Homo sapiens: one gene and its partner. The protein of the gene in region 1 interacts with the protein of each later gene in a pairwise test. Each region holds a gene or a part of one and is shown on either strand. Other genes may lie near its edges.

The links.
Region 2: the proteins of NEBL (region 1) and ACAP1 interact in binary tests that used the Homo sapiens proteins (3 or more experiments, as listed by UniProt).

What each region holds. Positions count from the first base shown.
Region 1 is NC_000010.11:20,827,774-20,831,590, reverse strand, and holds part of NEBL (nebulette), read left to right. Parts: intron 1-7; coding exon 8-118; intron 119-284; coding exon 285-395; intron 396-2,956; coding exon 2,957-3,061; intron 3,062-3,817. UniProt on the Homo sapiens protein: Binds to actin and plays an important role in the assembly of the Z-disk. May functionally link sarcomeric actin to the desmin intermediate filaments in the heart muscle sarcomeres.
Region 2 is NC_000017.11:7,342,783-7,346,599, forward strand, and holds part of ACAP1 (arf-GAP with coiled-coil, ANK repeat and PH domain-containing protein 1), read left to right. Parts: intron 1-596; coding exon 597-780; intron 781-923; coding exon 924-968; intron 969-1,078; coding exon 1,079-1,174; intron 1,175-1,266; coding exon 1,267-1,341; intron 1,342-1,756; coding exon 1,757-1,866; intron 1,867-3,461; coding exon 3,462-3,513; intron 3,514-3,608; coding exon 3,609-3,709; intron 3,710-3,817. UniProt on the Homo sapiens protein: GTPase-activating protein (GAP) for ADP ribosylation factor 6 (ARF6) required for clathrin-dependent export of proteins from recycling endosomes to trans-Golgi network and cell surface.

The DNA of each region.
Region 1 (3,817 bases):
TCTGCAGAAAGACTATAAAAGAGATCTGGAGACTGAAATTAAAGGGAAAGGGATGCAGGTGAGCACAGACACTCTTGATGTCCAGAGAGCTAAGAAAGCATCCGAGATGGCCAGCCAGGTAAGACAGCAGCAAGATACAAAGTTTAAAATAAATGCCGTGAATCATAGCTGGAAAGAGCATAAGTTTTCTTTCCACATGGGTGGCTTTGAGATTCAAACATGTAAATTTCAACATCGCTATTAAAGCTTAAGCAAAGCTCTAAGATTATTTTCTGTTCTTTTAGAAACAATACAAGAAGGACTTAGAAAATGAAATTAAAGGGAAAGGAATGCAAGTGAGCATGGATATCCCAGATATCCTTCGAGCCAAGAGGACATCTGAAATCTATAGCCAGGTTGGTCATGAATGAAGATGCTCAGAATCGTGTATTCCAATGTCATGTTGCCATGTGCTTTGTATGTCTCTATGAATGATATCTTTCTGAGGGCATTGCATTCAGAGCTAGTGTACTCTTTCACTAAGAAACCATTGGCCAAACTTGATTAACCGTACTAATTAATAGGACAACAGTCATAGATTCAATGCAACAGACATTATGGAGAGCTACAGCCTCTCTGTCGGGGCTCCTTGTTTTGAGTCCAAGGACATTAAACCTTTTTTTTTTTTTTTTTTTTTTTAAATTTTAGAGATGGAGGTCTCACTCTTTCACCCAGGCTGGAATGCAGTGGCACCATCATAGCTTGCTGCAGCCTCAAACTCCTGGGCTCAAGCTTATCTTCCTGCCTCAGTGGGCATGAGCCATTGTGCCCAGCCCAAGGATATTTTAACCTTTTCTTTCTTTCTTTTTTTTTTTTTGACCCTATTGGACACTTGGCTCAAATGCTTTTGCTAATACTACAGAAAAATAAATTACAAACGTTTTGTCTTTTAACCATTTCATAATGAATATTAATATTAAAATAGTTCCAAATAAAGCTAACAGTGGCTAAAGCTGCACAAGGTATAAAGTGAAGTTTAGTGTTAGGTAAAAATTAAGGGAACAGTGAGGTTTTCTTGGTAAAATTTAGATTTGTCAAATATACTTGTCCCATATTCTGTAAACAAAGCTGGATGTGGGAGAAGTAGTGACCACAAAAATTTATGGAAGAAGAATTTATTTATAAAATCTGACTTGGGCAAAAACATTCATTAGCAAATAATATCTTTGCTGTAACATTTACTAAAAAAGAATGACTCCCAATGGAAAAAAATAGAAGGAATGAAAAAAATGAAAATGGTTATTTAAAATTGACCATAGCATTTAATTTGATTAATGGAGTTTATGCAGAAAGGATTGTGTAACAACATTTGGTGAAATTTGTTAAAATTCTGATTAAGACATAAGCAAGGACATTAACCATCCACTAGTTCAAAAGGGTAGTATCAAGATGGCAGAGTCAAATGTCAGAGGACTTGTGTGCCTCTCAGCCTCCGCAGCCGACACAGCCGCTGGGATGATCCTGAAGTGTGTGTTCTGTTCTCAGTGTTCGTGAACTTGGAGACATTGGCTTGGCCATATCAGCTTAACTAAAATCCTAAGTCAATGCATTAAACAACAAATAGACATTTGAGTCAGTGGAGAAGAGTTACTTACTCTCTCAAGAATGCCAAATTCATTCCTTCAGTAGGTAAATACCTCCTGAGCACCCATTTGCAGGCAAAACTAGACATGGCTTTGCTCTTGGAAAGCTACAGATAAATCTAATAATCATGTAAATATAGTATTACAACCATGATATATACACCTGAAAGTAAAAGTATTGAGAGTGAAGGTGCCTGAGCTGTCAGATTTCCTGCATTAACTCAACAGCATAGATTTTTTTTTAGTGTGGTGTGAGAATATATCTAATTTTAAGGGATTTTAATCACTGAAATACAATTGGGATACTTACGAGGGTGTAATGAAGCCTGGTGCATTTCAACATGAATAGTAGTTACCTTTCTTTTTTTTTAATTTTATTATTATTATACTTTAAGTTTCAGGGTACATGTGTACAATGTGCAGGTTAGTTACATATGTATACATGTGCTATGCTGGTGCGCTGCACCCACTAACTCGTCATCTAGCATTAGGTATATCTCCTAATGCTATCCCTCCCCCCTCCCCCTACCCCACAACAGTCCCCAGAGTGTGATGTTCCCCTTCCTGTGTCCATGTGTTCTCATTGTTCAATTCCCACCTATGAGTGAGAATATGCAGTGTTTGGTTTTTTGTTCTTGCAATAGTTTACTGAGAATGATGATTTCCAATTTCATCCATGTCCCTACAAAGGACATGAACTCATCATTTTTTATGGCTGCATAGTATTCCATGGTGTATATGTGCCACATTTTCTTAAGTAGTTTGCCAGAATAATTAACTTCACTGATTTTGGAATCAGAGAGCCTGGTTTTAAGTTGAGGCTCTGATACTTACTATCTAGTACTTCAGTTTCTCCATCTGTAAGATGGAAATAATAATAGTATCTGCTTGTCAGGTTGATTAAATGAGTTAGTGTGTGTTAAGTATTTAGAACAATACCCATTACATAGTAAGTACAATGTAAGTGCTGGTACTAGGATAAGATATTGCCTGGGTTGTATTAGAGCTCATAGTAGCTCATTTAGTGGAGAGAAAATTAAGATTTTAATCTCAACTTCAAAATACTGTTAACTTTCCCTTAATCAAATCTATCTTCACATGAAGTAGGAAGCAAAGCGTAAATCTAGAAGCCATGTCGTATGGTAGAGATCGAAGAATGGTATCATTCTATCTCTGTCTCTCCACCTCTCTCTCTCTCTCTCTGGGAGTGTAAGTCAGTAAAAACAGTTTTTTACTCTCTCTCTCTCCCTTCCTCCTTTCCTGCCTCCCTCCCTCCCTCTCACATGTGCGCACACACATAGTTTCAGATTTATATTAACTGTTTATGTTTTTAGAGAAAGTATAAAGATGAAGCAGAGAAGATGCTTTCTAACTATTCTACCATAGCAGATACTCCTGAAATTCAGAGAATTAAGACAACTCAACAAAACATTAGTGCGGTGAGTAGCCATTACTTCTTTTAAGTTGCCACCTTGAAATTTTGTTTTGTAAGAAATGGTCTTTTTTCCTCATTGTCTGATGTTTTCTGCTGTCTTAGTTGAATTTTCTGTCAAGTGTATTATCTTTATTTCTTTAAAATAATAAGAATACTGATAATTTTTACAAATTATCATTTTTCATTATTTTTTTGGAATTACAAATTCAAAATTTCCTCTTCGGTATAAATGACAGTTATTAACTAAATTTTAAAATTTAACTCAGGAAAGAAGTCTGTCTTCTACACAGATTTTACTTTGAAGGTGAAAATAGTCATATGAAGTGATTTTATTCCTGGTTATTGATTGTTTTTACTGATAATATGTCTAACCATTTACTCATTCTTAATAAATTTCTAAACTTCTATATTTTTATTTTGAGGAAGAGGAATTGCATCAGCACTTTTTTTTTTAACTTTTATTTTAAGTTTGGGGGTACCTGTGCAGGTTTTTACATAGGTAAACTTGTGTCATAGGGGTTTGTTGTACGATTATTTTGTCACGCAGGTGTTAAGCCTAGTACCCATTAGTTATTTTTTCTGATCCTCTCCCTCCCCTCCTTCTTCACCCTCTGATAGGCCCCTGTGTGTGTTGTTCGCCTCTGTGTGTCCATGTGTTCTCATCATTTAGCTCCCACTTATAAGTGAGAAAATGCGGTATTTGGTTTTCTGTTCCTGCATTAGTTTGCTAAGTATAATGGCATCTAGCTCCATCCATGTC
Region 2 (3,817 bases), on another chromosome or scaffold:
CTGTAATCCCAGCTACTCAGGAGGCCGAGGCAGGAGAATCATTTGAACCCAGGAGGTGGAGGTTGCAGTGAGCCAAGATCGCACTACTTCACTTCAGCCTGGGCAACAGAGTGAGACTCTGCCTCAAAAAAAAAAAAAAAAAAAAAAAAATAGCCGGGCGTGGTGGCACATGTCTGTTGTCCCAGCTTCTTGGGAGGCTGAGGCAGGAGAATTGCTTGAGCCTGGAGGTCAGGGCTGCGGTGAGCCATGATTGTGCCACTGTACTCCAGCCTGGGTAACAGAGCAAGACCCGGTCTCAAAAACAAAAACAACAACAACAACAAAAATTTTTTAAAGGGGGAGTGAGATGGGAGAGAAGGGGGCCTTATTTCTCGGAAACCAGCCCTGCTGCCCTCTTCCCATGGCCACAGGAGCCTCCCCAGTGACGGAGTTGTGAGATTGGGGGTTTCTGGTGTCCTGACTTCCGTCCCAGGGATCACCTTGGGTTTCCCACGTTGCAGAGACTAACTGAAAGGACATGAGGGCTTTACCCTGGGAATGCTCTGCTGGGGCAGGTGGGTGTTAGCTGCGATTCTGTGTTATTTTCCCATCCTCAGAGGTCTGCGGGGTTTCCGAGAGGCTCGCCGGGATTTCTGGCGGGGGGCTGAGAGCCTGGAGGCTGCCCTGACCCACAACGCAGAGGTTCCCAGGCGCCGGGCCCAGGAGGCAGAAGAGGCAGGAGCTGCTTTGAGGACGGCTCGAGCTGGGTACCGGGGACGGGCACTGGATTATGCCCTGCAGGTGCCTGCCCCAATCTGTCTTCCTGGGGTACCAGAGCCTCAAGTGTCACCTCGAGGCTTGGGGGTCTCCAGTGTGCAGTGGGAAGGGGTGCTGTGTCTTCAAGACTGATCTGGGGTTTTTTACGTCCTCTTTTACGTCCTCAGATCAACGTGATTGAGGACAAGAGGAAGTTTGACATCATGGAGTTTGTGAGTTGTGGCGGGGGTGAGGGCAGGGTGGAGAAGAGCCTGCTGCCAGCACAAGGGAATGGGGAGAGGGGTTCTTCCTCAGCCTTCCCACTGCCCGCCTTGTCCCCCAGGTGCTGCGTTTGGTGGAGGCCCAGGCTACCCATTTCCAGCAGGGCCATGAGGAGCTGAGCCGGCTGTCCCAGTATCGAAAGGAGCTGGGCGCCCAGGTGGGGCCCCAGGGCACAGCAGGTGGTAGAGGGAGGTTAGGGACTCCTAACTGGGGGGCCTTGGACATCTGAGATGCCCTTCCTGTGCCCAGTTGCACCAGCTGGTCTTGAATTCAGCACGAGAGAAGAGGGACATGGAGCAGAGACACGTGCTGCTGAAACAGAAGGTGAGGGGCCAGGTGCGGTGGCCCACGACCGTCATCCCAACATGTTGGGAGGCTGAGGTGGGAAGATTGCTTGAGGCCTGGAGTTCAAGATTAGCCTAGGCATCGTAGTGAAACTCCATCTCTACAGAAAATTTTAAAATTAGCTGGTGTGGTGGCATGCACCTCTAGTTCTAGCTACTCAGGAGGCTGAGGTGGGAGGATTGCTTGAGCCCAGGAGTTCAAGACTGCAGTGAGCTATGATCACACAACTGCACTTAAGCCTGGGTGAAAGAACAAGACCCTGTCTCTAAAAATAAATTTTAAAAAGTATTTCAAAAAGCAGAAAGTAAGGGCTAGGGCTGTGGGCAGGAGGCAGATGCCTATGGCCTTGGTGTCTGCCCATCTCAGTTGCCCTTTGATCCTCTTGTGCCTCCAGGAGCTGGGTGGGGAGGAGCCAGAACCAAGCTTAAGAGAGGGGCCTGGTGGCCTGGTGATGGAAGGACATCTCTTCAAACGGGCCAGCAACGCATTTAAGACCTGGAGCAGGTGAGGAGAGGACACCCCCAATCAGCCCGCCCCACCCAATGATGTATTTTCGAGTGGTAATAGCACACTAAGCACTGCAAGGAAAAACAGACGAACCCCCCTGCCTCAGTAGAGTTTCATTCCATCAGCAAAGACAGAGGATAAACCTAGTATGTAAATTACGTGCTATGTTAGAAGGTGATAGTGCTTGCTATAGGAGAAAGATGATAAAGCAAGGGATGTGGGGAGCTGGGTAGGGGTTACAGTTCTAAATAGTTGGGCAGTGTGGGCTTCATGAGAAGGTAACTTTTGAACAAAGACTTGAAGGATATCTGGGGGAAGAAAGTTCTAGACAGAAGAAAGAGCCAGTGCCAAGGCCCTGAGATAGCTGGGGAGTTGGAAGAGCAGGGTGGTGGCCCTGGGTCTGGACAGAGTGAGGGAGGAGGATGTGCAGGAGATGAAATCGGAGCTAATGGGGGCATGAGTCATTATAGGGCCCTATAGATTTTTGTAGGGATTTGGGGTCTACTCTGAGAGCAATTGGGAGCCGCTATAGGGTTTGGAACAGGATGGTGGCATGCTGTGACTTGACTCCTTTCCCTTCTAGGGCCACTGCTAGCCCACATGGGATCTCTGTACAAATTAGAAAATGGAGCTGCTTCCCCAAGATACTCTTTTTTCTTTTTCTTTTCTTTTTTTTTTTCTGTTTTTTTTGAGATGGGGTGTCACTCTGTTGCCCAGCCTGCAGTGCAGTGGCGCAGTCTCGGCTCACTGCAACCTCTATCCCCTGAGTTCAAGTGATCCTCCCTCCTCAGCATCCTAAATAGCTGGGACCACAGGCGTGTGCCATCACGCTCGGCTAATTTTTGTATTTTTGGTAGAAACAGGGTTTCACCATGTTGCCCAGGCTGGTTGCAAACTCCTGACATCAAGCAATCCACCCGCCTCGGCCTCCCAACTTGCTGGGATTACAGGCGTGAGCCACTGTACCTGGCCCCCAAGATTCTTTCTTTTCTTTTTTTCTTTTTCTTTTTTTTTCTTTTTTGATGGAGCCTCGCTATGTTGCGCAGGCTGCAGCACAGTGGTGCGATCTCAGCTCACTGCAACCTCAGCTTCCTGGGTTCAAGCGATTCTCCTGCCTCAGCCTCCCAAGTAGGTGGGATTATAGCCGCCTGCCACCACGCCTGGCTAATTTTTGTATTTTTAGTAGAGACGGAGTTTCACCATATTGGTCAGGGTGGTCTCAAACTCCTGACCTCGGGTGATCCACCACCCCCATCAGCCTCCCAAAGTGCTGGGATTACAGGTGTGAGCCCAGCCTAAATAGTATTTTTTAAATTGTAGCAATAGACATTTTATTAGAAAAAGAATTTTACTGCCATCTGCTGGAAAGTTGTCTTCATAACTATATGAAATCTGGGTTGTCCAAGATAGGAATAGCATCCTTTAGATGTTCCAATCTGCACAATTGTCCACCCTTCTCTGGAATGTCTCGTGGAACAGTCAGCCCAGGTGTCTGTCCTCTCAGTAAGATCCTCATGGGCAAAAAGCACAGCCTCTCTTCCGTCCCTCATCCTAAAGCTGCCTATGTCTGTAATGATTTCCTTCTCTTACAGACGCTGGTTCACCATTCAGAGCAACCAACTGGTTTACCAGAAGAAGTACAAGGTGAGTGGACCTGGGTCCTGGATGCCTGGGCCCCAGGGAGACTCAGCTCTTGCCTGCAGCTGGACATCTGGCCCCTTATCACCTTATCCTGCCAGGACCCTGTGACTGTGGTGGTGGATGACCTTCGTCTCTGCACAGTGAAACTCTGCCCTGACTCAGAAAGGCGGTTCTGCTTTGAGGTGGTGTCCACCAGCAAGTGAGTGCAATCCCCAGGGGTGATACTCTAATATATCTAAACAACTGCCAATCTGAAAGGCAGGGCCCACCACAATGGAGGCCCCCCATGCAGCTCCAGACTTTAATT